4 separate regions of the Homo sapiens genome follow, and all the other regions are linked to region 1. Evidence: fine-mapped expression QTL. A gene starts in region 1. Each other region holds a variant in brackets. All regions are shown on one strand. Distances are from middle to middle.

The links. PIP is the estimated chance that this variant, and not a neighbour inherited with it, causes the effect.
Region 2: its variant is fine-mapped to the expression of DNAH1 in blood mononuclear cells (TOPMed, PIP 0.98).
Region 3: its variant is fine-mapped to the expression of DNAH1 in whole blood (TOPMed, PIP above 0.99). The same link has a PIP of 0.9 or more in tibial nerve.
Region 4: its variant is fine-mapped to the expression of DNAH1 in whole blood (INTERVAL, PIP 0.95).

What each region holds. Positions count from the first base shown.
Region 1 is chr3:52,311,237-52,319,339 of GRCh38, forward strand. DNAH1 (dynein axonemal heavy chain 1) reads left to right here and starts at 5,083. Exons shown (of 78, transcript NM_015512.5): 1 at 5,083-5,309. RefSeq lists enhancers at 1-300, 2,581-2,780, 5,597-6,535 and a silencer at 6,474-6,703.
Region 2 is chr3:53,048,466-53,056,568 of GRCh38, forward strand. No RefSeq gene overlaps it. Among named protein-coding and RNA genes, the nearest start is that of SFMBT1, 6.4 kb to the left of the region's middle. The variant C/G (reference allele first, on the strand shown) is at 4,133.
Region 3 is chr3:52,283,707-52,291,791 of GRCh38, forward strand. GLYCTK (glycerate kinase) reads left to right here and starts at 4,122. Exons shown (of 5, transcript NM_145262.4): 1 at 4,122-4,170; 2 at 6,598-7,013; 3 at 7,254-7,405; 4 at 8,041-8,085. The coding sequence starts at 6,637. GLYCTK-AS1 (GLYCTK antisense RNA 1) reads right to left here and starts at 6,027. Exons shown (of 1, transcript NR_046719.1): 1 at 4,874-6,027. It overlaps LOC107986086 (a long non-coding RNA gene), which reads right to left and starts at 4,314. Exons shown (of 3, transcript XR_001740699.2): 1 at 4,127-4,314; 2 at 822-885. RefSeq lists enhancers at 3,707-4,448, 3,754-4,953, 3,780-3,889, 6,693-7,193. The variant A/C (reference allele first, on the strand shown) is at 4,087.
Region 4 is chr3:52,416,891-52,424,993 of GRCh38, forward strand. PHF7 (PHD finger protein 7) reads left to right here. Exons shown (of 11, transcript NM_016483.7): 5 at 2,943-3,044; 6 at 3,421-3,545; 7 at 4,013-4,172; 8 at 4,758-4,864; 9 at 5,332-5,448; 10 at 5,870-5,991; 11 at 6,201-6,751. The coding sequence ends at 6,427. Among named protein-coding and RNA genes, the nearest start is that of PHF7, 10 kb to the left of the region's middle. The variant T/A (reference allele first, on the strand shown) is at 3,155.

The DNA.
Region 1 (8,103 bases):
TTGAGGCCCTGCGCCTCCAGGAGGTCTGGCTCTGCCACTGGCTCACTGTGGGTGTGACCGGGACCGGGGCCTAGCTTTGCCCTATGCCTCAGTTTCCTCAGTTGCACAAAGGAGTTAAGTTCTGGGTTGGCTCATGCTTTTTTGCCTCCCAGGGCAATGGCGCACCCGGGGAGAGGGGTCATCTGCAGTTGCAGTCACAGATGGGAAAATGAGGCCCAGAGATGAGACAGTTTACTCTGGGGCCAGCAGACTCAGTTCTGAGCATGTGGCCAGCAGCCAGGAGAGGAGACTGCAGGGGGAAATGCCAGCAAAGCCCAGCCTTTTTGCATCTCCAGTTTTCTTTAACCTGCCCTCCAGCCCTCCTTTGCCTGAGTTCACAACTCAACCCCAGCTGCGTGTATCCTGACGCAAGGCCCCCTTCCCTCCACCCAGCAATTATGGCTGGTCACAAAAGCTGGACCGTGACCAGACAAAGGGACAGGGATGAAAGTGCTGGTTGTCATGGCAACCTGGTGGGGTTGCTGGGACCCAGGGGAGGGGCTGGCTATGTGCCTGAGCCCAGGCATCAGGACGAGACCTGTGAGCATGAGCCAGGGCAGCCTGACGGCCCACAGGGACCCCCCTCCTGCTCTGGGCCCGCCAAAGCCGGGCATACAATGGCAACCTCAGCCCCTCCATGGGCAGCACCTGCTCCCTGGGCCTCCCCCAGTGGCCCCATTATCCTGCACCTGCTGACCACCGCCCCCCCAACCTGCTTCCCAGCCCAAGCTCCCTCCCCAGGGCAGGCCCTGCCCATCCTCAGGCCCACCTGCCTTCTCTGAGAGCCAGCCAAGAGGGCTGGGGAACCAGGAGGGATAGCAGGGAAGGCCCTGGGCAGGGACCGAGGGTCCAGCTGCCAAGCCAGCTCTGCCTGGCCAGCAGTGTGTGTGCCTGCAAAACAAGGCTTTGCTCCAGGACCTCAGTCTGCTCACCTGAAAACTGGGAGCATCCAATCCTGCCTTCAGGGTCTGCAAGGGCCAGTTTCTCTCTGCTTGGAGGGAGGGCTGAGGCCAGGTTGGGAAGAGAACAGACGGGGGTATCTTGGGTCATATTTTCAGGGCCGCATCTGTTGGACCACATGGAGACCTGAGTCCTTACTGTACACTTCAGAGTCACTGCTTAGGTTTGGAGATGACATTTTCCAGAGGCCTCCAAGGATACAGAGGAAGTGGGCAGGAGACCCAGTATTGCCACGCTTTTTTTTTTTTTTTTTGAGATGGAGTCTCTCTCTGTCACCCAAGCTGGAGCACAGTGCCACGATCTCGGCTCACTGGAACCTCTGTCTCCTGGGTTCAGGCAGTTCTCCTGCCTCAGCCTCCCATGTAGCTGGGACTACAGGGATGTGCCACCACGTCTGGCTAATTTTCGTATTTGTTTTGTTTTGTTTTGTTTTTTGAGACGGAATCTTGTTCTGTCGCCCAGGCTGGAGTGCAGTGGTGCGATCTCGGCTCACTGCAAGCTCCGCCTCCCAGGTTCACACCATTCTCTTGCCTCAGCCTCCCGAGTAGCTGGGACTACAGGCGCCCACCACCACACCTGGCTAATTTTTTGTATTTTTAGTAGAGACGGGGTTTTACTGTGTTAGCCAGGATGGTCTCGATCTCCTGACCTCGTGATCTGCCCGCCTCAGCCTCCCAAAGTGCTGGGATTACAAGTGTGAGCCAGCATGCCCAGCCTAATTTTTGTATTTTTTAGTAGAGACAGGGTTTCACCATGTTGCCCACTGGTCTTGAACTCCCGAACTCAAATGATCCGCCCACCTCGGCCTCCCAAAGTGCTGGGATTACAGGCATGAGCCACCACGCCTCGCCAGTGCCAGGCTCTTGAGTGGCCTATCAGGAGTACTGGGGAAAGAGAAAGACAGTGGGGTGGGTACTCTGCAGGAGGAGAGTGCTCCACAGGGGGCAGCTGGAGGATGGCTGGGGGCCCTGTTGATGGACAGTCCAGTTCTTCCATAAACAGGGAAACTGAGACTCTAGCAACTATCAGTGTCTGGCGCAAAAGGTAGGCCTGCCTGCCAGCTCCCTGATGCCCCACCTCAGGATGGTGGAGTGGAGGAGGGACAAAGAGTGAGAGGAGTGTGAGGCCAGGTAGATGCCCCTCCTCCTCCTGTAAAGGGAAGTGGGATTCTCATGGCAATGGGTCTTTGTCTCATGGTCTTTTCCTTGTGGCTCCCTATATCCTGCAGGACAGCCCCAGGTTCCTGTCCCACTCTGCCATGACTTTGGGTGAGGCCCCTCCTTTCTTGCCACCTCAGTTTGCAGACCCAGAGTATGGGAGCAGATTGCCAAGGAAGTTGTCAGCTCTAACTGCCACCCTAGCTGTTTGAATGTCCCTAGGCCAAAGCAGGCAGGCCATTTGCAAGGGGTGATGGGGAGGAGGGCTGCCCCACCTCTTTGGGAGTGAGGGATTCCATCTCTTTGGAACAAACCCTTCCTTACTGACCTGCTGGGAGTTTTTTACACATTCGCTCCTGGAGGTCTGGCAAGGGCAGTGCTTTTGCCAGGAATGGAAGTATTTGGGGCAGGAAAAGTCTTGGTGTCCCTCACACCACTCTGTACTGATGACCCCACCGTGACACTGGGTAAGGTTTCTGTTCCTCATTGTGCAGAAGAAAAACTGAGGCCTAACAAAGGAAGGGACTTGCCCGGTGAGTCATCAGAATAATCCAGGCCTCCTGCCCCGTCCAGAGCCCTTTCTAGGGGTGGATGAAAGGTCAGGCTGGCAGTCTGGTCCCCAAAGTGGCCAGCCTTGGGGGATGAGTGGATGGGAGGGCTCAGCTAAGCCTCAGCAAACCCAGGCTCCCTGGAAGGTGGGAGTGGGGGCACTTGGTGGGTCACAGGGCCAAGTTGATGAAGTCACCCACTCTGCCAAGATATTACTCCAGCTGACGCTCACCAAACTCCTTGGGACTGAGGAAAAATCAGAGGTGCTCAGAGCCTAATTATAATAAACAGTTTCCTGTGCAGCTCCTGGAGCCCCCCTGGGAAATGTCCTGTGGAAGATGTCTTTGTCTCAGAGCCTGCCATCTGGCGCTTTGGCCCAGGAAGGTGGGGACCAACAGGCATCCCCCCCTTGGGCCGCTGCTCCTGGAGCGCAGAGCCTCAGCATCCTGCACCCTCAGATGGAGGTCAGAGAAAAATAGGCTGGGGGAGAGGAGGTGAGGGTGGGATCATGTGGGGTCATGTGCAACTGGGCTGGTGTCAACAGCCACTATCTTTGAGGTGATGGCCCCGATGTGGGTTGCTCTATCTTCCAGTCATTTCTATGGGTCTTTCCTGGACTGACGCATGGGCAGGGCTGCTGAGAAAAGCTGTGCCTCTGCCCCAGCACCCCCTGACCCCATCCATCAAGTCCACCCTCCAGTTGGGAGAAACAGCAGTGACCATCACATGGTAGGGAGTGAGTCATCTACCAAGTGGTACTGACCATGGTCCTCTGGGGCCCTGAGGAGAGTGTGTGTTCTGTTGGCCAAGGCACTCAGGGAGTGTGTCCTGAGAAGTAGCCCAAGATGGCATGGAAGATCATAGAAAAACAAAGAGGGAAGAGGCTCCGGCAGGGAGGCTGCACAGGAGTAAAGGTGGGCAGGGGATTAGGTGGGGGCTGTGATGGATGAAGATTGTCTGTTCATGGGCCAGTGGTCTTCAGTCCACCAGCCCCGGAGAAACTCTGTTCTACTCCTTGCTTGAGCTCTGGGCTTTCAAGGTCTTGTCTGTCAAGGTGATCATGTGGATCAAAGGAGAATTAAATTTTCTCCATTTTTATTCATCAAAGAAATGATTATGCTGGTCAGAACTGCTGAGGGCAGCTGAGCAATGGCAGGGAGGCTTATGTCGGGGAGGCCTGGGGAGGCAGTGAATCGTAGACCTCACCCATTCCCTTCTCTGACACCCCCCGCCCCCGATGCCTGCAACTCACTTTCTTGTGGCATAGCTCAGAGCTCCAGGCCTAGAAAATCAGAGGAAGATCCTGGGGGCCCAAGAGGGAGGCTGGGGACAGGTGGGGAGCGGGTAGCTCAGCCACTCAGTCTGGATGCCTGTCACCTTCCGTTCTGGCTGGCCAGCCACATGAAGGGCCCATTCTGCTGCCCATTCACAAGGGGCTTTCATCTCTGCAGCCAGTGAAGCATTGCTCCCATCTCAGCCAGCAAGGAGACACAGGGGAGGGGGTGTGCAGACTTGCCATGACCTCAGACTCCATGCTGGAAAGGCATGGCCCTGGGCCAGGGCATCCTAAGCAGCCCATCTGCCCCAATCCCCCAGCTTCCAGGCCACCAGAGTCCTCAGCAAGGGGGATCTGAGTAAGAGATGGGCAGTGACTCCCCAACTCTTGTAGAAACCTAGTCCTCCCATTTCAACAAGGGTAAGGCTGACCTCTCTTCCAGCTTATTCAGGGCAAAAGATGGCCCTCCCATCACAAGAGGGGCAGGAGTCCAGTGGGTCATGGCTCAGCCCCCTGCTCCTTTCCCAGGGAGCAAGGTAAGTATGGTGGCCTTCAGGACAGGGCAGGAAGACCAAAGCCTGAACCCTTGCGCAGCCATGGGAGAAGACAGCACATTAGAGGGTAGCCCCTGAGACCCAGGAGAACAGGGACTGACTCACGGTGTCCTTCCAGGGAGGAGGGAGGCAGTCATATCCACAGCCCGCCCTTGAAGAGGGGCGAAGTGGAGCTGGCAGGGCTGCTGGTAAAAGCAGCACCCCCGACCCCCACCCCTCAAGTCCATTCTCCAGTTGGGAGAAACAGCAGTGACCATCACATGGTAAGCAGTGAGTGGTTCTGTGAGCTGGGCCTCCTGAGAGTGGACCCTTTCAGCTGTGGCCTGTCCATCTGTCCAGCAGCCACAGCCCCTGTGATGTCACCAGCCCACTGTGTTGCTTGGCAACTTTCCAGGATTAGCATTCTGCCCCTCTCATCCCTGACATCCCACCATAGGCTGATGTTGCCATGGCAACCCGGATAGATGCTGCAGCTTTTTGGACAGCTGTACCTAGTGTGGGAAGTGCCAGGCAAAAGCAGGGAAGCAGGTGCCTCTCTACAGGCCAAGGGGGGTACCCAACCTATACGCAGACCCATTGAGCAGCCAGACTGCCCTAAACAGGGCTATGGAGTCCTTGTCCCTTCTAAGAGCTGTGGACACCTTGCCTCCAGTTCCCCTCACAGTCCTTTCTTCCTTCTGCAGTGATCACTGAGTACCTGTGTGAATGCCAACAAGAAAAATAAAACCACAGTTTGGATTCAGGAAAGGTTGCACCACCATCAGGTCTTGAAGGGTGAGTAGGAGTCCGCCAGATGCAGGAGTGGATGGAGACAGGTTCTAGACAGAGGAAGCAGAAGCCTGTGCAAGGGCTGAACCACTGTCTCCAGGCATAGATTACACCCTGCCTCTAGGTTCCTCATGGCCTGGCCTCTCCATCTTTCCCACTCAATACACTTTATGGTGGGGATAGGGTCCAGTTCAGTTCCAGACACTTAGTGCCCAGCAACAGGCCTGGCACCAAGCCAGCACGACTAAAATGCCAAGTAAAATTCAACATCAGGGCCTATGACCTCCCCTAGTACTAACCGTCTCAGCAAGTCTGTTTCCCCATCTGTGAAATGGGGCCAGTTTTGAGAAGGCTGTGGGCAGGGGTTCTCAGGTACAGATGGGGTGATGTTTTTCTTTTGGTTCTTTTGGTTTGTAAACCACTTCTTTCCCTTACAGAAAAAATTGGAAGACTAGTACATGGACATCTGTGACCTTCAGATTCCCTAATTGTTATATTGCAGCACTTTTGCTTTATCTCCTCTTTGTCTTTTTATCTAGCTATGCTTACCTATATGTATAATTTTTGCTGAACCATTTGAAAGGAAATTGTAGCGGACATTCTGACGTGTTTCTTCAAACACTTCAGGCCACGTCAACTAAGGACAGTCTGATACAACCACAGTAGCATTATCACATCTAAGAAAATTAACAATAATTCAATATTCAGAATAGGGCAGGAAGATCAAAACCTGAACCCATGCCAGGTGCTGAGAGCAGATGAGGGGCATCAGAGGGTGGGCGCCCGAGCCGAGGGGTGTCGGGCGCATCCGCTGCCCAGCGGAAGCGGCGGCCTGAGTGGAGTCACCGTGCAATGGGTGGGTGTGGCTTTGTGAGCCAAGCCCCAGGAGAACCAGAACCCACCTTTTCCTCAGTGCCCTGACCAGCTGTCCCGCAGCTGTGGCTTAAATGCCAACTTCCAGTTCGTAAATTTCTTCAATTATTCCTCCCCAAATTATTTACATATGTATATGTATTTAAATCAGGATTTAATCAAAGTTCTCACGCTGCATTTAGCTGTTTCGCTGCTTACTCTAAAAGGGCACAGGAGGGAAGATGGGTGGGTAATGGAGCCTAGAAGAGTGACGCTCCCTGGTCGGCCCTAATCCTGCCGATCGGGGCATATGCTGGAACATCCCAGTCCCACTGTCCTGGGCGGAAGTAACCGAGACCTGGAGTTGGTGGGTAGGTAAGGGTTCAGGCTGGGGAGGTTCGCGGACGGAAGCTCCCGCCCTGCGGTGCCGGATGGCCCCGCCCCTTAGCAACGGCCTAGCGTCCCTCCCTAGAGACGGGGCTGATGCATCCCCGCACTGCTCGGTGGAACCGGTACGTCGGTGAGGCGGAGGGGTTGCGGGGCCAGCGCGGGCAGCGGGACCTCGAAAAGGCGCGGAGGGCGAGTGGACGAGGGTGGGGAATGGGGTCTCCCAGGAGTCTGGTTGCTGAGCCTTGGCCAGGGGGAAAGAAGGGAGGTGCACTTTATTTTATTATTTTTGAGACGGAGTCTCGCTCTGTCGCCCAGGCTGGAGTGCAATGGCGCGATCTCGGCTCACTGCAACCTCCACCTCCCGGGTTCAAGCGATTCTCCAGCCTCAGCCTCCTGAATAGCTGGGATTATACGCACCCGCCATCATGCCGGCTAATTTTTGTGTTTTTGTAGAGACGGGGTTTCACCCTGTTGACCAAGCTGGTCTTAAACTCCTGACCTCGGGTGATCCGCCCGCCTGGGCCCAAGTGTTTGGATTACAGGCGTGAGCCACTGCGCCCGGCCTGGAGGTGCACTTCAAACAGCCTTGCAGTGAAGTCCTGTACTTGCCAGACCAGTTTTTGGGCCCCATCCCCATGCTGAGCACGTGGCAGTCCCATCAGCTACCCAATCCTTCTCCAGATCCCTACCAGAGTTGTTACAGAGGTCAACTTCATTCCTTTCTCCACCTTGCCCATCCATTAGTTCATTTGTTCACACAATCATTCAGCAAGTACTTTCTAGGCACCAGCTGTGTGCCAAGCCCATGCCAGCCTCATGCTAGGTGCTAGGTGCCAAGTTTCCAGAGATCAGCGTTACTTGAAAATGCCTACACAGCTGACAGGAAAAACAGATGTGCACATGTAATACAGGGAGAGGTACACTGGAGGGGAAAGACACAGTTGTGGAGGGCAGTTTGCATCGGGTGAATGCTTCAAAACGGTGGAGAGAACCCCAAGCCTGGGGGAGCAATAACCATTCATGGTGTTGTTTGCCTGGTCGCCCCAAGGGCAGATACTTCCCAAATCCCTTAAAGTCGCAGATCCATTTGTCTGCTTATGCAGAACCCCGGGGTGTGAAATGGATAAAGGTGCAGGATCCTTGTTGAATCGGGTGAGTGGCATAGAAGCCCTCCTGCTTATGTGGCTCCCCACAGGCACCCACTTTGCAGAATCTCAGCACCCGGTTGGAGAACCACTGTTGTGATGCTAGAACATGGATCTTTGGGTCAGCCAGAAGTGAAGACCTCAGTTTCCATTCTGGTTCTGCCAAGTGTTTGGTTGTGTGATCTTTGCAAGTTTCTTTACTTTCCTGGGCCCTAGTTTCCTCAGCTGTAAATTGGCAATAATAGTAGTATCTGCTGTGAGGTTGGAATACCCCTATTCATCTGTGTCTCTTCAGCCAAGTGCTTGGCTACTGGTTGAGTCAAGTGGGGTTGAGTGTCAGTGAATCCAACCAGAAGCTTCCTCTGGCTCAAGCCAATAGGGCTCCCAGGTGATCTGAGTGGGGAGAAAGAAGA
Region 2 (8,103 bases), 740 kb after region 1:
CAAAAAAATTAGCCAGGCATGGTGGCGGGCGCCTGTAGTCCCAGCTACTCCGGAGGCTGAGGCAGGAGAATGGCGTGAATCTGGGAGGCCGAGCTTGCAGTGAGCTGAGATCGCGCCACTGCACTCCAGCCTGGGCGACAAAGCGAGACTCCAACTCAAAAAAAAAAAAAATTCCTTTGTTTAGTAAAATCTACTTTTACGCTAGACTTTCTATTTTGATTAATATATTTCTGAATTCTCCATTTCCTTCCTTAGACCTCAGTTTGAGCAAATACCATATGAATCTAAATATTGGTTCTTTGGAATAGGTTCTAACATATGAAAAGGCTTGATTCCCTCTCATGCCCTTATGAGGTCTTCTTTTTTCAGATTATCAGTTGATATCCACACTGGTTTATGTGTCTCTACACATCCTAGGATAATCATATAAGGGTTAAGAGGACTGGCTTTGAGGACGGACCATCCAGGTTCAACAACCAGCCCTGTGACCTTGGCAACTTATCTATCCCCTCTGGGCCTTCAGGTCTTGGTCTGTAAAATTAGGATAAGAGTAACAGCTGCCTCTGGCCTGGCGCAGTGGCTCACGCCTGTAATCCCAGCACTTTGGGAGGCCGAGGTGGGCAGATTACGAGGTCAGGAGATCGAGCCCATCCTGGCTAACATGGTGAAACTCTGTCTCTACTAAAAATACAAAAAAATTAGCCAGGTGTAGTGGTGGGCGCTTGTAGTCCCAGCTACTCGGGAGGCTGAGGCAGGAGAATGGCGTGAACCCGGGAGACGGAGCTTGCAGTGAGCCAAGATCGTGCCACTGCACTCCAGCCTGGGTGACAGCAAGACTCCAACTCAAAAAAAAAAAAAAAAAAAAGATTAACAGCTGCCTCACAAGCTCAACGCCTAGGACATAGTAAAAGTTTTGTAAATGTTAGCTATTGTTAATGATTTTTTTGAGACAGAGTCTCGCTCTGTCACCCAGGCTGGAGTGCAGTGGTGCAATCTTGGCTCACTGCAACCTCTGCCTCCTGGGTGCAAGCGATTCTCCAGCCTCAGCCTCCTCAGTAGCTGGGATTACAGGCGCACGCTACCACACCCGGCTAATTTTTGTATTTTTAGTAGAGACGGGGTTTCACCATGTTGGTCAGTCTGGTCTCGAACTCCTGACCTTATGATCCACCCGCCTCAGCCTCCCAAAGTGCTGGGATTACAGGTGTGAGCCACCGCACCCAGCCTTTTTAAAATTTTTTTTGAGAGAGGGTCTCACTCGGTCACCCAGGCTGCAGTGCAATGGTGCTATCATGGCTCACTGCAGCCTCTACCTCCCAGGCTCAAGCAGTCCTCCCGCCTCAGCCCCGAGTAGCTGGGACTACAGGTGTGCACCACCATGCTCAGCTAATTTTTGTATCTTTTGTAGAGACAGGATTTTGCCATGTTGCCCAGGCTGGTCTTGAACTCCTGGGCTCAAGTGATCCACCCGCCTCAGCCTCCCAAAGCGCTGGCCACCACGTCCGGTCCTATCTTTCAATTTATTCAAATATTGTAAAACTCTCTTGCCTTTCTCCAGTGCTCACCTTCATGACCCCTAAGGAAGAAGAACAGAGAACTCAAGGAACAGTTTAAAACTGTCTGCACATCTGACTTGTGTCAGACACTGTGTAGATGTGGGTGTGGGTATGCACATGTGCAGTTGGACAGAATCTCCTTTAACTCTTGCAACATCCTTTAGGACAGGCCGTAACATTCCCTACGGACAAAGAGCAAACTGAGAGCTTCCAGGTCATCCTTAAAGAGAAGCAAAACTTAGCCACAAACCTGGCATGCCAGCTTCTCAACCACGCTACTGGGAAATTCGAGTTGGGGATTGTTGACCGAAGATGCAGCCCCAGAGGCGCACGGAACGAGGGGTAACTTATGGAAAACTGACTTCTGGTCATGACTCACCCCAGTTGAAAGCCTTTCAAGGTTCTCTATTGCACTTTGCAGAAGTCCAAAAGCCTCACTTTGGCCTATAAGGCACCAGGGCCAGGTGCGGTGGCTCAAGCCTGTAAGCCCAAAAGTTTGGGAGCCCAAGGTGGGCGGATCATGAGGTCAGGAGTTCGAGACTAGCCTGGTCAACATGGCAAAACCCCATCTCTACTAAAGATACAAAAAATTAGCCGGGTGTGGTAGCACACACCTGTAATCCCAGCTACTCGGGAGGCTGAGGCAGGAGAATCACTTGAACCTGGGAGGCAGAGGTTGCAGTGAGCTGAGATGGCGCCATTGCGCTCCAGGCTGGGCGACAGGGTGAGACCCCCGTCTCAAAAAAAAAAAAAAAAAGGACTGGCCCTGGCCTGGCGCAGTAGCTGATACCTGTAATCCCAACACTTTGGGAGGCTGAGGTGGGCAGATCACGAGATCAGGAGTTCAAGACCAGCCTGGCCAACATGGCAAAACCCCATCTCTACTAAAAATACAAAAAATTAGCTGGGCGTGGTGGTGCGCGCCTGTAACCCCAGCTACATGGGAGGCTGAGGCAGGAGAATTGCTTGAAGCCGGGGGGGGCGGAGGTTGCAATGAGCCAAGATCGTGCCATTGCACACCAGCCTGGGTGACAAGAGCGAAACTGTGTCTCAAAAAAAAAAAAAAGACTGGCCTGGCCCACCTTCACCTGTCCCATTCAGCTGTCCTACTCACCTGCCTTGCTTGCTGTATTTTAGCTGCACCTGTCTCCTTTCCATTTCATGGGTATGTCACTGTCCTTCCCACTGGCACACTCCCCATCCCACTTCCTGCACCCACCTTTACATAGGTGACACCTTATTGTTCCAGTATCTGCTTAACAAGATGGTCTCCTCAGAGAGGCTTTCCCTGCCCACCCCATCTGAACAGGTTCTCTCTCTCCCCAGTGGTGATATTTCTAATTTATACCTGCATTTGTTTGTCATTTATTTGGGTTCTGTCCCCCCTGTAATCCCACAGATGGACATCAGTCCCCTTGAGCACAAAGACATGCCTGTCTCCATAACCATGAGGTCAGCCCTTTCCCCAAGAGGCAGTGGGAAGACAAGAGGGTGGCTAGTGGGTCATTTGGCAGCATCCAAGACCAGAGGCTGGCACACCCAGGAGGCATCCTGGGCATTCCCAACTTAGTCTCCACTTCCTGCTGGCTTCATGGGTTAGGGGTTGTAACCCTCTGTCATCATTGACCAAGGGGTCAGTGTTCAACCATTCTATATGAACCCCCTATGCCCTGAGGCCTTGCCTGCCCATGAAGCAGGCCTGTTTTCTGCAGGTGGGCATCAACCTGGGGCCTTGTACTGGATGAGAACCTGAGGGCCAGGCCTGGACCCTGGGGACTGGCAGAACCCTTGGCCAGGACATCATGCTGTTTTCAACCCATGAAGAACTGAATGAAATTCCACAAGCCAGCCAGGCCTGCTGTCAGTGATCAGCGGCCCTCCATTGCCACTGACCTGACCAGCCAGCTTCCTTCAGTCAATCCAAATGAGGCCAGTCACATAATGACTCCCTGTGGCTAATTACCCAAGCAATCAGGTGATCCCCACTGTAGAGTCACTGCTCACCCCATGCCATTCTTCACTGAGGTCCAACTGACTATGCTGGCCCTGCTGCCTCGGGAGCACAGACCATGACTCCACATTCTCTGTAACACCTGCCCTGCTTCCCTCCATGTCTTGGCTCCTGCAAACCCTGCTCCACCAGGTGTCCTTCTCACCTACGCTGTGTTGTCAGGGAAAAAACAATGGGTGTGGAGGCAGACAGCTGGAGTCAAGTTCAGAGTTAGTCACTGCTTCTCTATGAGACCTTCTATGGGACCCTTCACCACTCTGGGCTCAGTTTCCTCATCTTTGTAAAATGGGGAGGAAATCAGCTTCTTTGCTGGGTCATAGGAATCCAAGAACAAAATGTGTATAAACATTCTTTGCAAACTGTAAAGCACAACAGAATGATGAGAAATAGTTGTCCTGACCTCAAAGCCATCTCCTCCAGGAGGCCTCCCAAGATTGCTCCCCTTCTTTCTCTGTCTTCCTAAAGCACTTAGCTTGCTTTTCCTCAGTTGCTTACCACAGAACAGGCACTGGCCCTCTTGACCCCGTTTTCTATCCTTGAGTGCCACAAGCCCAGGATTATGTCC[C/G]CATTCATCCCCAAAGACCGCTTCTCTTGGAGAAAATATATTAATGGGCACAGTGTTCCAATTTTATGTTATTGAGCCATGCATTTTTCTTAAATTATTTTGCACCTTCAACTTCTTATCCGCTAATAAGAGGTCACAGGCACCAAATAAGTGACCAAGGACGCTCAGCAATACCGGAAAAAAGAGGGAGCAGTTCTTTGGGTTGGAGGTTGGAGTGTCTTTTTTTTTTTTTTTTTTTTTTTTGAGACGGAGTCTCGCTCTGTCTCCCTCTGTGGATCACTTGAGCTCATGAGTTTGAAACCAGCCTGGGCGACATGGTGAAACCCCACCTCTACAAAGAATACAAAAATTAGCCAGGTGTGGTGGTGCACACCTGTAGTCCCAGCTACTTGGGAGGCTGAGGTAGGAGGATGGCTTGAACCTGGGAGGTGGAGGTTGCAGTGAGCTGAGATGATGCCACTGCACTCCAGCCTGGGCAATAGAGCCAGACCTTGTCTAAGAAAAAGAAAAAAAAATTGTATGAGGAATGTATACAGTGACTGGGACAGAGGACACAAACTGGTAGGCCCTGTGTCAAATGTGGCCCAGATGGCGCTTTGCTGTTGTTGTTGTTGTTTTATTTTGTTTTGTTGCTTTTTTTGTGAGACAGGCTCTTGCTCTGTCACCCAGGCTGGAGTGCAGTGGCACAATCATGGCTCACTGCAGCCTTGATCTCCCAGGCTCTAGTGATCCCTCCACCTCAGACTCCCAAGTAGCTGAGACTACAGGTACGTGCCACCATGCCTGGCTAATTTTCGTATTTTTTTAGAGATGGGGGTCTCACTATGTTGCCTAGGCTGGTCTCAAACTCCTAAGCTCAAGTGATCTGCCCCGCATTGGCCTCCCAAAGTGCTAGGATTACAGGCATGAGTGTGGCCAAGATTTTTTTACAATACTTTTTTTTTTTAGGTATAATTTGCATACAATAAAATATACCCATTTTGGGCTGTGTGCGGTGGTTCACGCCTATAATCCCAACACTTTGGGAGGCTGAGGTGGGCAGATCACATGAGGTTGGGAGTTTGAGACCAGCCTGGCCAACATTGTGAAACCTCATCTCTACTAAAAATACAAAAATTAGCCAGGTGTGGTGGTACACGCCTGTAATCCCAGCTACTCGGGAGGCTGAGCCATGAGAATCCCTTGAACCCAGGAGATGGAGGTTGCAGTGAGCCAAGATCACCCCACTGGCCTCCAGCCTGGGCGATAGAACAAGACTCTGTCTCAAAAAAAAAAAAAAAAAAAAAAAAAAAAAAATATATATATATATATATATATATACATATACCTATTATATAAGTGTAGAGTTCTCTGAGTGCTCACAGAGGTGCAGCCCATGTAACCACCACCACGAAGACACAGAGACTTCTTTTTTTTTTTTAAGGGAGTCTCTCTCTGTCACCCAGGTTGGAGTGCAGTGTTGTAATCTCGGCTCACTGCAACCTCCGCCTCCCAGGTTCAAGCAGTTCTTCTGCCTCAGCCTCCTGGGTAGCTGGGATCACAGGCACGTGCCACAATGCCCGGCTAATTTTTGTATTTTTAGTAGACGGGGTTTCACCATGTTGGCCAGGCTGGTCTCGAACTCCTGATCTCAAGTGATTTGCCAGCCTCGGCCTCCCAAAGTGCTAGGATTACAGGCGTGAGCCACCGCTCCTGGCCAACACAGAGCCTTCTAATGACTCCCCTCACCCATAGGCAAACACTGATCTGATTTCTAGTTTCAAGATTACTTTTGCCTGTTTTTATAAACTTCATCATAGGCCGGGCACAGTGGCTCATGCCTGTAAACCCAGCACTTTAGGAGGCCGAGGGGGGAGGATTGATTGAGGCCAGGAATTCGAGACCAGCCTGGGCAACATAGCAAGACCCCATCTCTACAGAAAATTTAAAAATTAGCCAGATGTGGTGGCCCAAGCCTGTAGTCCTAGCTACTCTGGAGGCTAAGCTGCGAGGATCACTTGAGCCTGGAGGTCAAGACTGCAGTGAGCTGTGATTGTGCCACAGCACTCTAGCCTGGGTGACAGAGTGAGACTTTGACTCAAAAAAAAAAAAAAAGAAAAAGAAAAAAAGAAAAAAAAAGAAAAGAATAAAGAAAGAAAAGACAAGAAAAGACAAGAAAAAAATTTCATCATAGAGCAATACTCTCTGTCTGTTTTTTATTATTATTTTTTGTTCAGCTCCTCCAAGTAGCGATCCTGTCTGGTTGCTTTTTTCTTTGTTGTTGTTGTTGTTGTTGTTGTTGTTGTTGTTGTTTTCGAGACGGTGTCTCACTCTGTCGTCCAGGCTGGAATGCAGTGGTGCCATCTCAGCTCACTGCAGCCACTGCCTCCCAGTTCAAGCAGTTCTCCTGCCTCAGCCTCCCGAGTAGCTGTGATTACAGGTGTGAGTCACAGCACTCAGCTAATTTGTGTGTGTGTGTGTGTGTGTGTGTGTGTGTGTGTGTGTGTGTTTTCAGTAGAGACAGGGTTTCTCATGTTGGCCAGGCTGGTTTTGAACTACTGACCTCAAGCGATCCACCTATCTCAGCCTCTCAAAGTGCTTGCATTACAGGCGTGAGCCCCAGTCCCTGTCTACCTTTTTGTTTTGAGACAGGGTCTCACTTCATTGGTGCAATAATTGTGCACTGCAGCCTCTAACTCTTGGCTTCAAGTGATCCTCCTGCCTCAGCCTCCTGAGTAGCTGGGACTACAGGCATGTATCACTACATCTTTTCTTATTTTTCATAGAAATGGGGTCTCACCATGTTGCCCAAGCTGGCCTTGAACTCTAGTCTCAAGTGATTCTACCACCTCCGCCTCCCAAAGTGCTGAGTTTACAAGTGTGACCTGCTGTGTCAGGCGTCCTGTTTGTTTCTGAGATTCATCCATGTTTCTACATGTATCAGATTATTCCTTTTCTTTTTCCTTTTTCTTTCTTTCTTTTTTTTCTTTTTTTTTTTTTTTTTTTTGAGTTGGAGTTTCGCTCTGTCGCCCAGGCTGGAGTGCAGTGGCGCAGTCTCTGCTCACTGCAACCTCCACCTCTCGGTTTCAAGTGATTCCCCTGCTTCAGCCTCCCGAGTAACTAGGATTATAGGCGTGTGCCTGTCATTACCACGCCTGGCTAATTTTTGTATTTTTAGTAGAGATGGGGTTTCACCATGTTGGCCGGGTTGGTCTTGAACTCCTGACCTCAGGTGATCTGCCCACTTCAGCATCCCAAAGTGCTGAGATTACAGGTGTGAGCCACTGCACCCGGCCTCTTTTTTTCTTTAATGTTAAACTACTCCTTTATTGCAAGGTAAATCATATTATTTCAATCATATAGAATGCCCAGGGGATGGAGATTCAAGAGTTCCCTTTTGTACTGGCCTTCAAAATATTGTACCTACATGAATGTATGCCTTCCAAAATACTTAAATCATATTATTTAATATATTTATACTAGTCTAATAAAACATTACATATATTGTAAAACACAAAATATAGAAATGTTAAAAAGAAGAAGTAAAGAGGAGATAAATACTATTTTTAAATTATTTTGTTTGCCAAAGAAGTATAATCATTTTGCCCCTCATAAAATATTATATTAAATCATGTTATTATATTAAATGATATTAAAGACAATTATGATATTAAAATATTAATAGTATTTTAATGAAATGAATATGATTGAAAATGTTTCTGTTTTTCTATACTACTGAAGTATAGTTGAAGTACAAAAAGACACATATCTATAAAGTGATAGCCCCTCAACCCTACCTGACCCCCAGGCCTTGGAATTGACCTCTCTAGGGTGAAACCTGGGTGATAGCTTATTTTCAACATGGCATCCAGCGCAGGCAAGAGCATTCTTCATGACCCTCATGGCCCTTTTGGAGAAGCCAGGGCAGGAGGTTTGTGAAGAAGGCTGTTCATCTGGCCCTTGGAAGGGACTTGGCAAGGCAGGCCCAACCA
Region 3 (8,085 bases), 28 kb before region 1:
GCCTCTCATCAGTGCTTGCCTAGAGTCATGCTGAACTGCTTCCTAGTGTTTTGTTTTACTCTCCCCAACTCCTCCTTCCAAGAAAAATAGCTTTAAGATGTTTTATTTTTTTTAATTTTTTTTTTTTTTTTTTTGAGACAGAGTCTCACTCTGTCACCCAGGCTGGAGTGCAGTGGTGTGATCTCAGCTCACTGCAACCTCTACCTCCTGGGTTCAAGCAATTCTCCCACCTCAGCCTTCCGAGTAGCTGGAATTATAGGTGCGTGACACCACATCCGGCTAATTTGTTGTTGTTGTTGTTGTTGTTGTTGTTGTTGTATTTTTAGTAGAAACGGGGTTTTGCCATGTTGGCCAGGCTGGTCTCAAACTCCTGACCTCAAGTGATCCGCTCACCTCGGCCTCCCAGTTTTAAGGTGTTGTACAGCCCTTACATAGGACACAGCTCCACTTTACCCTGCCTCCAACACAGCTGACCTTCCCTCCCACGGAGTAACCCTGCAAGCCCAGGCTGGGCACAGTGGCTTACACCTATAGTCCCAGCACTTTCAGAGGCTGGGGCAGGAGAACTGCTTGAGCCCAGGAGTTTGAGACCAGCTTGGGCAACAAAGCAAGACCCTGTCTCCACAAAAAATTAGCCAGGCATGGTGGTGTGCACCTGTAGTCCCAGCTACTTGAGAGGCTGAGGCAGGAGGATCGCTACAACCCAGGAGGTTGAGGCTATAGTGAGCTGTAATCACCACTGTCCTCCAGCCTGGGCGACAGTGTGAGACTTTGTCTCCTAAAAACAAAAAAAAATTAAAATTAAAAGTACCACTTCTTACCTATCCCAGCAGCTACAGCATTCGGCCCACACAGAAGGCACTCAGGAAATGTCTTGAATTATGTCTGAGGAAGGAATAAATGCATGGAAGGAATATAGCTGACTATAACCAAGAAAAAACAATAAAATTTTCAGTATTTACAACCTCTCCCACATTAAAGAGGGCAATTCCACCTACGGATGCCTTTGTTTTGATGATGTGGTGGGAAATCATTTAGGAGAAGGAATACAAAGTCTCATATTTTAAAAGGAAAAATCCAGGGAGAAGGACGGGTGTGGTGGCTCACACCTGTAATCCCAGCACTTTGGGAGACAGAGGCAGGAAGATGGTTTGAGCGCAGAAGTTTGAGACCAGCCTGGCCAACATGGCAAAACCACTTCTCTACAAAAAATACAAAAAATTAGCTGGGTGTGGTGGTGCACGTCTGTGGTCCCAGCTACTTGGGAGACTGAAGTGGGAGGATCACTTGAGCCTCGGAGGTGGAGGTTGCAATAATCCAAGATGATGGCACTGAACTCCAACCTGGGTGACAGAGTGAGATCCTGTCTCAAATAAAAATATATGTATATATAAGAAAAAGAAAAATCCAGGGAGAGAGCTGGAAGTGGGGGCCAGAGGAAGGGAAAGGTTCATGACAAGAGCACAGCATGGTTTGGAGACCTAAGGAGAGATGTAGCAACTGCCAAAGGGAGCAGGTAGGGGGTGTGAAAAGAAAATAAAATTTTAGGACATTCCCAATTTATAATGTGAAGGAGAAAAGTGAAGCCCTGGAAACTGAGCAGGCATTGCTTTTTTTTTTTCTTCTCTGATGCATGACTGCTGCTTCCTGATCTTTGTATTGAAATGTTATACATTAACCAGGCTCCCTATTCTTCATTCAGACTTAGACTAGATGATGTGGGAGATAGAGACCCTTGTGATTGTTGTCTCTTTACAATAGAATGTTAAGCAAACTCCTTCCAGTATAATCAATAGTAGCCAACCAAATCTTGTATTTATGTTAGCCTTTTTTTGGAAAATGTTGTAATTCTGGTCAGCACTCCTGTTTTTGCCTATATAAACAATCTTTTTTTTTTTTTTTTTTGAGACGGAGTCTCGCTTTGTCACCCAGGCTGGAGGGCAGTCACGCAATCTCGGTTCACTGCAACCTCCCAGGTTCAAGCAATCCTCCTGCCTCAGCCCCACCAGTAGCTGGGATTACAGGCACACACCACCATGCCTAGCTAATTTTTGTATTTTTAGTAGAGACGGGGTTTCGCCATGTTGGCCAGGCTGGTCTTGAACTCCTGACCTCAGGTGATCCACCTGCCTCAGCCTCCCAAAGTGCTAGGATTACAGGTGTGAGCCACTGTGCCCGGCCCATGCCCAGCTAATTTTTGTATTTTTTAGTAGAGATGGGGTTTCACCATATTGGTTAGGCCAGTCTCGAACTCCTGACCTCAAATGATCCCACCTGCCTCAGCCTCCCAAAGTACTGGGATTGCAGGCATGAGCCACTGCACCTGTCCCAAAAACACATTTCTAATGTCAACCTAAAAATCATCAAAAGGTTCGATATCCAGTTAAAAGAATTTATTCAAGCATAAAGTGTGAGGGCAGCCATCCAGGGAAACACAGACACCAAGCAGTGGCAATTAGTGTTCTCCAGCATGGGGAAAGATGAAGGTTGTTTATATAGGCCGGGCGCCTGTAATTGTTTATACGCCTGTAATCCCTGCACTTTGGGAGGCCAAGGGCGGTGGATCACAAGGTCAGGAGTTCGAGACCAGCCTGGCCAACATGGTGAAACTCTGTCTCTACTAAAAATACAAAAATTAGCTGGACGTGGTGGCGGGCGCCTGTAGTCCCAGCTATTCGGGAGGCTGAGGCAGGAGAATTGCTTGAACCTGGGAGGCGGAGGTTGCAGTGAGCCGACATCGTGCCCAGGCTGCAGTGCAGTGGCCGTGAGCTGAGACTGTGCCATTGCAGTCCAGCCTGGGTGACAGAGCAAGACTCCACCTCAAAACCAAGAGAAAGAAATGTGTTTTTGTTTGTTGGTTTTTTTTTGAGACAGGGGCCCAGGTTGGAGTGCAGTGGCGTGATCAAGGTTCACTGCAGCCTCTACCTCCCAGGCTCAGGTGATCCTCCCATCTCAGCCTCCTGAGTAGCTGGGACTACAGGAGCATGCCACCACACCTGGCTCTTTTTTTTTTGGTAGAGATAAGTTTCGCCATGTTCCCAGGCTGGTCTCGCATTCCTAGGCTCAAGCGATCCGCCCACCTTGGCCTCCCCAATGTTGGGATTACAGGCGTGAAACACTGCGCCCTGCCAAGAAACATGTTTCAATAAAATTGTTAGGAAATCAAGTGTGTGATTTGTGATGCAACTCTCTCCTCTATCTCCCTAAGAAAACATCAGTAAAAACAGTGAACTGTTTTGTATTTTTGGAGTCTGATCAGGACTCATCTTATGAATGTGGGAAGGCATCCAGCCAACACAGGGTAGGCCCCGGATGAGAGTAGGGACAGCGAGGTAGGCCCAGAGTCATTAGCGTTTACATGCCGCTTATGTGCTTGAGGATCGCAGAATGGAACTCTTGCTAAGCCAGAGCTGTATTTGGTGGCCCATGGTGGGAGAGGGAAGAACAATAATAAGTTGTGGAATAAAAGCCATGGAGAGGAGCGGGAATTACTTAATCTGGCTCCAGAAGGGGTGAGTTGTGGGGAAGTAGTGATTCTCAGTTCGTTTGCTCAGCCCAGTCAGTGCCTGACACTCAGGGTGCATCTGCTGACTGACCGTACAGGATAAAGGAAGGGAGAGGCCGGGTGCGGCGGCTGAAGTCTGTAATCCCATCACTTTCGGAGGCTGAGGTGGGTGGATCGCTTGAGGTTAGGCGTTCGAGACCAGCCTGGGCAACATGGCGAAAGCCCGTCTCTACTAAAAAATACAAAAATTAGCCCGGAGTGGTGGCACATGCCTGTAATCCCAGCTACTCGGGAGGCTGAGGCATGAGAATCGCTTGAATCCGGGAGGCGGAGGTTGCATTGGGCCGAAACCGCGACTCTGCACTCCAGTCTGGGCGACAGAATGAGACCCCGTCTCAAAAAAAAAATCGGCAATCGGTGAGGCGGGGATTATTACCCTCAATGTAGAGATTTAAAAAATGAGGACTGAAGGTGACTCCTTCCAGGTCTGTCAGTGGCCAGCAAAGAGCCAATATGCTAAACTCTCCCCTCCCGGACACCGGCTTCAGCCAGAGCTCGCACCCGCCTGCGCCGCTCCACCC[A/C]CCCACACTTCCGGCTTCCGCTCCGCCCACCCCCTAGTACTTCCGTTCTCCAGCGCTGGGCACCGCGGCCGGAGCTGTGGGCTGGTAAGTCTGCGCCGCCAGGGCTCGCATGGCCTTCAGAAGCGGTCCCTGGGCTGGGCGATGACGGGTCCTGGTGGCAGCAGGCCCTTCTTTCTCGCATCACCGGGCATTACGCGGCAGCCATTTCCCTCGCTAAGGCCCTACCTTAGGATGACGTCACTTCCGGCCCCCTACTGTCTAGGGAAAGCCGGAAATGGTACCAGCCTTCTTTGATGGCGGGGAGGAGTCAAGACCGGTAGTCTTCCTATTTCCGTTGTTTTGCTCTGGAGCCTCCCGGAGTTTCGGAGAGACCGTGTCTTGGATAGAATTGGAGGACTTAGCAAATAAAAATGCAAAGCGTCCAGTTACATTTTTTTTGAGTTAGAATCTCACTCTGTCACCCAGGCTGGAGTGCAGTGGCGCGATCTCGGCTCACTGCAACCTCCGCCTCCCCTGTTCAAATGATTCTCATGCCTCAGTCTCCCGAGTAGCTGGGATTACGGGCGCCCACCACACCCGGCTAATTTTTGTATTTTTAGAAGAGACGGGGTTTCACCACGTTGGTCAGGCTGGTCTCGAACTCCTGACCTCAGGTGATGCGCCCGCCTCAGCCTTCCAAAGTGCTGGGATTACAGGCGTGAGCCACTGCGCCGGGCCACGTCCAGTTAAATTTGAGTTAAGATAAACGACGAATAATTGTTAAGTCCTAAACATTGTATGCACATACTTATACTTTAAAAATTACTTGTTTATTTGAAATTCAAATTTAACCGGAAGTCCTGTATTTTCTCTGGCAGCCTTAGCATTGAGCGTCCCCCTGTCCTGTGCTCATACCCAGTGGCAAGGCTGGGATCTTCTAGGCTCTTGTCCATCTGGGAAATAGATACAAATTTCATCCAGGCTATAAAGACCGGCTGTCTTAGTTGCTAAGATGCTTTTAGCTCCAAGTCCAATGGGCAAGCTCCAGGGGTCCCCCTGGCCAAAACTGGACCCATTTTCGGAATCCCCATGACGATGCCCTCTGTGTTCCCTTTCACAACAGAAGTCAGGCATGGCTGTCTTTTCTTACCGGAGAGCTGAGAACTAGGCAAGCAAAATGGTCAAAGTCTAGAAGTAACCACCATATTTGGGTGTGGGGTAAACCGGTGTTTGAGATCTGTGTTGCAGTGGACAGTATCAGAGAGCCTGAGGTTGTTAAGGGAAGAGCGTAGTGTTAATCTCACCCCATGTCTCATTTTGCGGATGAGGCCCAGTGAGAGAAATGGAGGTGTCCCAGCCACTCAGAAAGCCTATAGTAGAGCTGGAACCTCAATTCCCAGCCTCCTTACCCTGCTCAGTCCATACTTGCTGATGAAGTCAGCTTGCAACATTTATGGTAGGCATTTATTAAAGTAGATGCAATAGTACATATGTAGTACAGATGAGCTGTTTGGGTCTTTGTTGTTCCTATACCCCTCTACAGCTTCCTGACCTTCGCCCCAAGGCTTCTTTAGCTTTTACTCTGCCCAGTGGGGAAAATGGCTATGGGCTCAGTTATGGGAGCCTGGCCTTTGCCTACTTCAGCCCTTGGGCTCTCACCACTGTGGGTGGTGTGACCTAGGACTTGTTTTTGTTATCTTGGAACCAGAAGGCGTGTTCTTGGCAGGGTTGGGTCTGGCCAACTGTGTGGGTAGAAGGGCATCCTTTTCTGTCCTGCAATTGGGCTTCATGGCACATGGCCTCACATGGTGCCTGGGGACTTTTCTAAGGTTCCACCATGAGCCAGACTTTGCCCTCACTCCTGATTTGAACCTAAACCTCTTGCTGAACTGGTCCTGCATACTGAGATTCCTCAGATTGCTTGCCCTGAGGATGTGTTCTGGGTTTGACCTGATAAACCTGCAGCCTCCTATAGACCCTGACTTCCCAGGCTCCTAATCCCAGTCTCATGAGATAATGAAATAGAGAAGACTGGAGGTCAATGGGCTCAGGGTCAGTTGGTGGGACAATCAACAGCTTCCTGGCAGCAGAGGTGGTAAAGAGGCAAGGAAGGAGTGCCAGAAAGGGGCGTTGCCCCAGGGTAACAGCGCAGAAGTGCAGGGGGTGGAAAAGGGGTGGGATGGGAGCCCACTGGTAGAAATTACTCCCTCTGTCAATGATTAACTCCCAGCCAAAGGGGTGACCTGGGAGGAGGGCCCAGCTAATAGGAACTTTGGACTTGAGGCAGAGTATCCAGAGGGCCGGCATGTGGTCTGCAGAAGAGGAGGACGTGGCTGGGTGGCAGGGCTGGTCTCCAAGGACGAGTAAGATCCTGCAGCTGCAGGCTTCAGGAAGTCTCCTGGGGCTATCAGATGGCTCCTTCTTGTAGCAGCAGCTGTGGGGTCCACTGGCCCTGAGCCCTCAGAGGGGCGGCCGTGGGGGACCTCCTGTCTTTTGCCTTGCAAGGGCCTCAGTTGTGCTTTTTCCCTCTAGGCAGCCATGGGTGCCAGGCAGTGCTGAGAGCAGTGGGGCATGGCTGCAGCCCTGCAGGTCCTGCCCCGCTTGGCCCGAGCCCCCTTGCATCCACTCCTCTGGCGGGGCTCAGTGGCCCGTCTGGCCAGCAGCATGGCCTTGGCAGAGCAGGCCAGGCAGCTGTTTGAGAGTGCTGTAGGTGCAGTGCTGCCGGGCCCCATGCTGCACCGGGCACTATCCTTGGACCCTGGTGGCAGACAGCTGAAGGTGCGGGACCGGAACTTTCAGCTGAGGCAAAACCTCTACCTGGTGGGCTTTGGCAAGGCTGTGCTGGGTATGGCAGCTGCAGCTGAGGAACTACTGGGCCAGCATCTTGTGCAGGGCGTGATCAGCGTTCCCAAGGGGATCCGTGCTGCCATGGAGCGTGCCGGCAAGCAGTAAGGAGCCATGGGGGCCTGCCTCCCTCTATCTATCTGGAGGGAAACCTGGGCCCAGACACAGGCTGAATCGGGCCTCCCCTCCCCACCCGCTTCCCATTTCTCCTGGATCTGGCCTGGCCCCAGGATGCATGTCAGTGGGCATCTTCGTTCATGCCCCCATCACCTGTAAAGTTGAGAGATCAGGTGGGAGGAGAGGAGTCCACCCCATCTCTTGCGTGCTGACCTTTCCCTCCCCAGGGAGATGCTGCTGAAGCCACATAGCCGTGTCCAGGTATTCGAGGGTGCGGAGGACAACCTCCCGGACCGCGATGCGCTGCGGGCTGCACTGGCCATCCAGCAACTGGCTGAGGGACTCACAGCTGATGACCTGCTGCTCGTGCTGATCTCAGGTGTGGTACCACATTGGCCCAAGACTGTTGGTGGGGGGTGCACCACCTGATCTCTCAGGTCTTCGAGAGATCAGGTCTGAGCCCCCGGGGTCACAGGGTAAAGTTAGGAGCAAGGGAGGTGGTGAGGAGCCTGGATGGTGACTCCTGGGTTGCCTTGGGCTAGTCGTCTGGCCTCCCCTGAGCTGTGGAGTCCTCCCCCTGAGCTGACCTTTTCGGTGACAGTGAGAGGGTGCATGGGGAGCACATAATGCAGGGCCTGACACATCCGTAGAGTCCTTGGAAAATGTCACTGCTATTGCTGCTGTCTGTACTAATGTCACCTGGGGCTAGGCCCTCAGACCTCATGGAGTCCTCTCCTTGATCTTCCATTGTGTGCCCCCTGCCCTGCCTCCTGTTCTAGTCTCTTAAGGAGTAGTTAGTTCTTCCGGTGCCTACTGGGACCTGGGGTACCCCAAGGCAGGGGCAACCTCAGGTGGCCAGGATGTGGTGACTGTACACATATTGCATATCCACAGGGGGGCACCCTAACCCCACCTTTCCAGCCCCCTTTTTCTAATGTGGGCTTGTCACCCCTGCTTGCCTGGTTCCCTGGGTTGGGATAGCCCCTCTACCTGATACCCTCATTGTCTTGAGAGGTGGGGGTTCAGCTCTGCTGCCTGCCCCCATCCCACCTGTCACAC
Region 4 (8,103 bases), 110 kb after region 1:
ATTTCAGATACAAATTCTTTTTCAAATATATGTATTGAGACTATTTTCTTCCTAGTCTTTGGCTTGCCTTTTCATTTTCTTAATGGTGTCTTTCAAAGAACAAGTTTGTAATTGTAATGGAGCCCAGTTTATCCATTTTTTTCTTTTATGGTCAGTGCTTTTTGTGTGTTGCAAGAAATCTTTACCTACCCATAGAATTGCCTTGGTGCCTTTGTCAAAATCAATTGACCATATATCTGTGGATCTGGATAATCTATTTATGTCATTGATCTATGTATCTATTCTTACACAAGTCCCCACTGTCTTGATTATTGTGGCTTTATAGTATATTGAAATTCAGTATTGTTAAGTTCTACAATCTTTTCCAAGATTGTTTTGACTATCAGGTCCTTTCTTTATAAAGTTTATATTAAGCTTGTCAATTTTTCTTTAAAAAAAAAGTCTACTGGGATTGTGATTGGGATTGCATTGAATTTATAGGTCAATTTGGGAAGAATTGACAAAAAATATTGAACCTTCCAATCCATGGACATGGTATATTTTTCCACTTATTTGGGTCTTTTAAAATATATCTCAGCAATGTTTTGTTGTTTTGGTGACAAAGTCTTGTACATCTTTTGTTAAATGTATTCCTAAATATTCTGTGGTTATGCTATTGTAAATAGTATTTTTATTTCATTTTTAAGTTTATTGCTGGTATATAGAAATGCATTTTATTTTTGTATATTGATTTGTATCCTGTAATCTTGTTAAATTGAGTTTGATTAGTTGTTTTTTTATTTTGTTGTAAATGCCTTGTTACAGGATTCCCTATGCACATAACCATGTCATGTGTGAATAAAGACAGTTCTACTTCTTTCTCTCAATCTTTGCCTTTTATTTCTTCTTGCCTTGTTGTATTGGCTAGGACCTTTAACCTAACATTGAATAGAAGTGGTGTGAGTTGTTATCCTTGTCTTGTTCCCAACATCAGGGGACAGCATCTAGTTTTTCACTATTAAAGTATGTTAGCTCTAGGTTTTTTTCATAGATGTTTTTATCAGGTTGAAGATCCCTTTTATTCATATATAGTTTGCCCAGAGTATCATGAATGGGTGTTGAATTTTCTCACTTTTCCTGTATTTATTGAGATTATCTTGATTTTTCTCTTTAATTTTGTTAATGTAGTTTGTTACATCAACTAAATGCTCTAATGTTAAACTAGTCTTGCATTCTTGGTATAAACTCTACTTGGTCATGATGTATTGTCCTTTTTATATGGTGCTGGATTCAGTTTGCATCTGTTTTGATTTTTATATCTGTGCTCATGAGAAAGATTGGTCTGTGATTTTCCTTTCTTGTAAGTCCTATCAGGTGTCAGGGCTTAGTTATAATTTTGATGTATTTACAAGCATATACATTTTTTACATAAAAATTAAACATTATACAGAGTGCTTTGTATCTTGGCTTTTTTCCATCATATATATTTTGGAAATCTTTCTGTATAGAACATATAGATATAGTTTTTTCTTTTTAGTAGCTAATTTATTAAATCAATACATGCTTATTGCAGAAAACATGAATGATACTTAAAAATATGAAGAAAACAAATCACTCATCCCAAAGCCCTGAGATAATTAGTTTTAAAATATGTGTTTCAAAAGTTCAATTCCTTCCCCCATAATACAGAACAACAACAATCAAGAGATATTAAAACCCTGTTTTTCTTCCTGTATTACTCTGAGAAGAGTATTTTCTCTGTACTAAGAGGTGATGCAGCAGGAAGGGTAAGAATGGGGATTCCATGGGCCTGGGTGTGAATAGCCAGCTCTGCTCCTCCTTGTCCTATAACCCTGGGAGGCAGTGTCACTTGCCACACTGCACCTCAGCGGCCTCCTCTGTAAGATGAGCATCATAATAGCATCTGCCATTACAGGAATTTTTTTTTTTTTTTTTGAGACGGAGTCTTGCTCTGTCGCCCAGGCTAGAGTGCAGTGGCCTGATCTTGGCTCACTTCAACCTCCGCCTCCCGGGTTCAAGCGATTCTCCTGCCTCAGCCTCCCGAGTAGCTGGGATTACAGGCGCGCACCACCATGCCCTAGTTTTTGTATTTTTAGTAGAGACAGGGTTTCACCATGTTGGCCAGGCTGGTCTCGAACTCCTGACCTCAGATGGTCAGCCCTCCTCGGCTTCCCAAAGTGCTAGGATTACAGGTGTGAGCCACCGTGCCTGGCCAAGGATTGTAAGCATAAAATGAGTAAATACAAAGGAAATGTTTCCCCCAAAGTCCCAGCACACAATAGCAGCCCTCAGTAAGTGAGAGGCAGCCTAGAGCAAAAGTAAGAGTCCAGGTTCCAGAGTTCTGTGGCCTTGAGCAGGTCGCATCATCTCTCCTATAAAATGAGGACAATAATAGTACCTACCTCCTAGGGCTGTTGGGAGGACTCAATGAGTTAATATTTGAAACCACTTAGAGTATTCAACACATGGTTGGTGCCATGTAAGCCTTCATTAAATAAATTACCCTGTCAATGCATATATATTCCACCAAGCTCTGTTCTTTTTTTTTTTCTTTTTTGAGACAGAGTCTTGTTCTGTGGCCCAGGCTGGAGTGCAGTGGCACGATCTCGGCTCACTGCAAGCTCCACCCTCTCGGGTTCACGCCATTCTCCTGCCTCAGCCTCCTGAGTAGCTGGGACTACAGGTGCGTGCCACCACACCCGGCTAATTTTTTTGTATTTTTAGTAGAGATGGGGTTTCACCGTGTTAGCCAGGATGGTCTCCATCTCCTGACCTCGTGATCCGCCCGCCTCGGCCTCCCAAAGTGCCGGGATTACAGGCATGAGCCACCACACCCGGCCCAAGCTCTATTCTTTAGCTCTCTTACCCTGTCCTTCTCCTCACCTCACTGCACTGTTTCACTGATCATCATTGTTAACAGCCTGGTTCTACTGCCCCCGCAGATCTTATCTAGTAAGCTGCCTCAGAGGGGCCAGTCCAACAGAGGCTTCCATGGATTTCTGCCTGAAGACATCAAAAAGGAGGCAGCCCGGGCTTCTAGGAAGGTTAGAATCTCTTGAAATGAGGACCTTGGGGTAGGCCTCTTTTCATACCTCACCCATCATTCCTGTTTCTGTTCTCTTCCCTACTTCCTAGTTTAGATGTCAAAGGACTC[T/A]TGGATTTTCCAACTAGTCCTTAAGTCCCATATTCCTCTGGGGTATGGGTGTCCTAAGTGAGAAGAGGGAGAAACATCTTGAGAAAATAGGAAAGAACTCAGTGCTGCTTGAAGCTCAGCTTCCGGGTGCCCCAGAGCATTCAGGACCACTGAAGATAGGGAATGGCTATTATTTCACAAAACTTCCATTTAATAGAAAGATGTGCTACACTGTGTGTGTTTGCATTTCTTGGGGTCCTGAGCACTGTCTGGGAACTCATTTGCAGATCTGCTTTGTGTGCAAGAAAAAGGGAGCTGCTATCAACTGCCAGAAGGATCAGTGCCTCAGAAACTTCCATCTGCCTTGTGGCCAAGAAAGGGGTTGCCTTTCACAATTTTTTGGAGAGTACAAGTGAGTGAGGGAAGGGAAAAGTCTGGCTTCCTTTTTGCAACTTATTATTCAGCCACTAATGAAATCAGAGTCCAGTTCTCACAAGCAGGCCTGTTTTGATTCACCAGTGAATCTGTCCCTCCATTCAGTAATAAGAAACAGTGTCTTGACTTGGAGATTTCACAGGGGGTTCTTCTTGCTTCCTGACCCCTCCTTAAATTACAAACAGCTGGGGTTCTTAGACAGCTGCTCAGCACTAAGTGGGGCTTTCAGGAACGAGAGGCTATGGAGACAGTCCTGGGAACTTTGCTCAGTAGGTGAGCAGCCGTGAGAAGGCATGTGGCAGTTCTTCACTCTGCCTCTCCTCTTCCCCATGTGTGGAGGTTCACTGGGCACCAGCCTGGGTGGCTGGCTGCCCCTCCTAGAGCGGGCCATTGGGAAACTACATCAATGACAAACCAGAAACCAAGTCTGTTTACCTGCCACAGATCATTTTGTGACAAACATCGCCCAACACAGAACATCCAACATGGGCATGTGGGGGAGGAAAGCTGCATCTTATGTTGTGAAGACTTATCCCAACAGAGTGTTGAGAACATCCAGAGCCCGTGTTGTAGTCAAGCCATCTACCACCGCAAGTGCATACAGGTGGGGCTTTTTCCGCCCTGGGTCCCTTCCACCATTGCCCTAGTTCTCTGCCTGGAACCAGAGAACCCTGGGAATGCTCAGGTGTGCCTCAGCTTTGGTGCTCCATGCTGGAGGCCTGTATTGAGGGCTGGTTTCAGGCAGTTAGAGGAAAGTCAGTCCAGTCTGTGGTCATTCCTGGCCTATAGGACCTCACACATGATAAGATTTAGAATAAGCAAAATCTTCAGCATTGCTAGAGCAAATGGGCTCATCCCAGAATGAGCTGAGAAGCCTCTATGTCAGCCTCACTTCCTGGGATGAAAGAAAAGGGAAACATGTATCCAGGTGGCTGACCCCTACTCAGTACTGCCGAGCCCCATGGTCAGAGATGACAGCTGAGGCACTCCTGGGAATTCTCTTGAAAGTATTTTGGTCCCAGGTCTGACACCTGGATTTGCAGCCCTCACCCTAGCCCACCCAAACTCCTTTTCCTGTACCCTCAAACTCTCTTAGCAACATCCTCTTTGTAGGGGTGAGGGTGGGAGGAGAAAGAAGGTAGTCAAAGGGTTTTTACAAACACAGAGCTCTTCCCTGTTTCTCTTACAGAAATATGCCCACACATCAGCAAAGCATTTCTTCAAATGTCCACAGTGTAACAATCGAAAAGAGTTTCCTCAAGAAATGCTGAGAATGGGAATTCATATTCCAGACAGGTAGTGGGAACCCCAAAGCAGGAACTGAGCCAGGGAGTGGGTTGCCTAGATTTCTAGAGAGGAGGTGAGTGAGAGGATAGTTCAGAGAATGAGAGCAGCAGAGGCACTGATAAGAAGGAAGGGGAGGAGGGAGTGCTTTTCAATTATCAAAACAGAAGGGAGGGGGAAGAAGTTTGCGGGGGAATGGGGTGCTTGTTGCTGAAAAGGGCATTTGGGGAATCAGAATTCCCTGGGGGGTTGAGTTATTGGATTCCAGAGTGGAACTAAGGAACCTGCATGCATGTTCCATTCATCCTGCTTCAACCCTCTCCCACTGCCAGGCCACTTGGCCAGCCTTGTTGGAAGTGTTCAGGCAGCCTACTGAACTCTTGCTGTGCTTAGCTTGGGCTCTTCCTAACTCCTCCCTGATGGACAAAAGTTTCACCAACCCATTATGTTCTTATTCACTGTTTCTTCTCCCACTGCAGAGATGCTGCCTGGGAACTCGAGCCAGGGGCTTTCTCAGACTTATATCAGCGCTATCAGCACTGTGATGCCCCCATCTGTCTGTATGAACAAGGCAGAGACAGCTTTGAGGATGAAGGGTAGGGGAAGGCTTCTGGCTAGAAAGAGCTCTCATCAGTGCTATCTTAGAGTTAGACCTTGGCACAGTTATTAGAAGTAAGAAATTCACTCTTGTATGCAGACCTTAGGATAAACACGATTGCTAAGTCTCATTCTTGACCAGCCCGACTCACTTGTGTGCACGTGAACACGTCTCCCCTGCAAGGTCCGCTTCACCTTGTGCCCAGTGGAGAGACATTCAGAGCCAATTCCTTTCCTAATCTACCTTTCAAGGGGTTACGACTGATGGCAGGCTTCTGGGATCAGCACTCATCCTCTCTGAGCCATACATTCATCTTGGGTAAAATGTGCTGTAAAAAATGCCTGGCCCATAGCAAACATCCAAGCATGGCAGTTGGTGTTCTGTATGTCTCCACAACCCTTCCTGGGCTCTTCCTCTAGGAGGTGGTGCCTCATTCTGTGTGCTACATGCGGATCCCACGGAACCCACAGGGACTGCTCCTCTCTTAGATCTAACAGTAAGAAATGGGAGTGTGAGGAGTGTTCACCTGCTGCAGCCACAGGTGAGGCTGGAGGGATGGGCCGGCCTCAGAGCAAGGAGGGGGCTGTAGGGACTTGTGGTGCCTGGGAAAGGAGGAAGACATCCCACCAGAGGGGGATTAATAGTTGGTGCCTTTGACTTTGGAAGGAAAGTAGCTAGAGAGGAGCTTAAGGACCTGTGCCTGGGAGAAGCAGAGGCTTGAGTTTTCCTCTCCTGCCTTTCTCTCACCAGACTACATACCTGAAAACTCAGGGGACATCCCTTGCTGCAGCAGCACCTTCCACCCTGAGGAACATTTCTGCAGAGACAACACCTTGGAAGAGAATCCGGGCCTTTCTTGGACTGATTGGCCAGAACCTTCCTTATTAGAAAAGCCAGAGTCCTCTCGTGGCAGGAGGAGCTACTCCTGGAGGTCCAAGGGTGTCAGAATCACTAACAGCTGCAAAAAATCCAAGTAACACCTTCTGAGTAGCTGCTGTCCCACACAATAGGGTATGAAGCTGCGCTCCTCCATCGGGTTTGGGGAGGGAGCACTCTGGGACTGTGAGACAAGGAAGCAGGGCCAGCAGTGAGACTATGAGCCAAGCAAAGAGAAGTCTCAGTGGAGCATGAGGAGGGAGCAGTCCAGATGCCAACAAGGAAATGCGTTTATGGCTACAAGAGTGCCTCTGCTTTCTCCTCCTCTCCTCCCACCAAGGATTCTTCCACCTTAATCTTGTTTTCATATGCCTCTTCTTACTTCACCCATGTTTGTTGTTATGCAAATAAAGGTTTTCTCTCCATTGGTGTCTCCTTATAAATTCATTCTGAAATTTGTCTGGGTAGTAAAGATTCTACGGGGTAGAGTACGAGAGTAAGAAAACTCACCCTCCTAATCCATAAAATTTAGGGAATTAATGTAGAACTTTTAGCTTAGAATATAGACATGTTTCTTTGGAGGGAAAGAAACCTGTTTATACGGAAATTGGCATTACAGAGGTAGAGAATCTTCATCAATCATTGTGCAAATAATAAGTACACAGGTTCTCATTAGGGAGGTGAGCCAGCATAGCAGTCCACACTGGGTGGAGAATAGGCCCTTGTTGCAAGGCTTGGGGTCCTGGACTCAAACAGGTCAAGGACTACCATGCTTATACATGGGGCATAAGGGACTCCATTCTCTCCTGACTGGTGTGGGCTTCAGCACACCTCCACAGCATGAGTGAGCCCAGTCAAACCCTCACTGCCCGGTGGTTCGAGCATTTCCGTCCAGAGTTTAAATATGAATTTGCATGCCAGGACATTCAAATTAGGCAAGGTGGCCGGGCGCAGTGGCTCATACCTGTAATCCCAGCACTTTGGGAGGCCGAGGCGGGCAGATGACTTAAGGTCAGGAGTTCAAGACCAGCCTTGCCAACATGGTGAAACCCCATCTCTACTAAAAATACAAAAATTAACCGGGCACGGTGGTGGGTGCCTATAATCCCAGATACTTGGGAGGCTGAGGCAGGAGAATCGTTTCAGTCCGGGAGGTGGAGGTTGCAGTTAGCTGAGATCGCGCCACTGCTCTCCAGCCTGGGTAACAGAGCAAAACGCTGTCTCAAAATTAAATTAAAAAAACATAATCTTCCCGTTTTCGTTCACCTCAGATAATTGTATCACAATTTTTGTTAACTTTCAATGTTTATATTATTATGATGCTAGAAATACTGTTTACCACTGAGCCAGGCAGTACACTATGATTACCTTTCCTCTTTTGTACAATGTTTTTTTCTGAAATTAATAATTGCTTCTTTTTTGGTATATACCTATTGCTAATTCTTCTGAAATGTTGCAAATGATCAACAAAATGTCTCAAAATGCAATTTTCCTCATAGACCAGGCATCAGATCACTATCAGCTGGACTTCTTTTCCTGAAGACCTGCCTCCCAGAGCCGCCGCCTCCAGTGCTGGCTGCTCCTAGAGCTCCTGCACAGCTGTCCTCCTAGGGCTTCCCACAATTATGCCCTTTTTCTTCATTTCCTTTCTCTTGGGTTTGACCACCCAATGCTATCCTTGCTTATCCGGGCGTCCAGGGAAATTTTGTCAGAGCTCTGCAAGTAACAGGAACATTTTTTAATTGTGAGCTTTCATATAAAACACAATATTTAACCC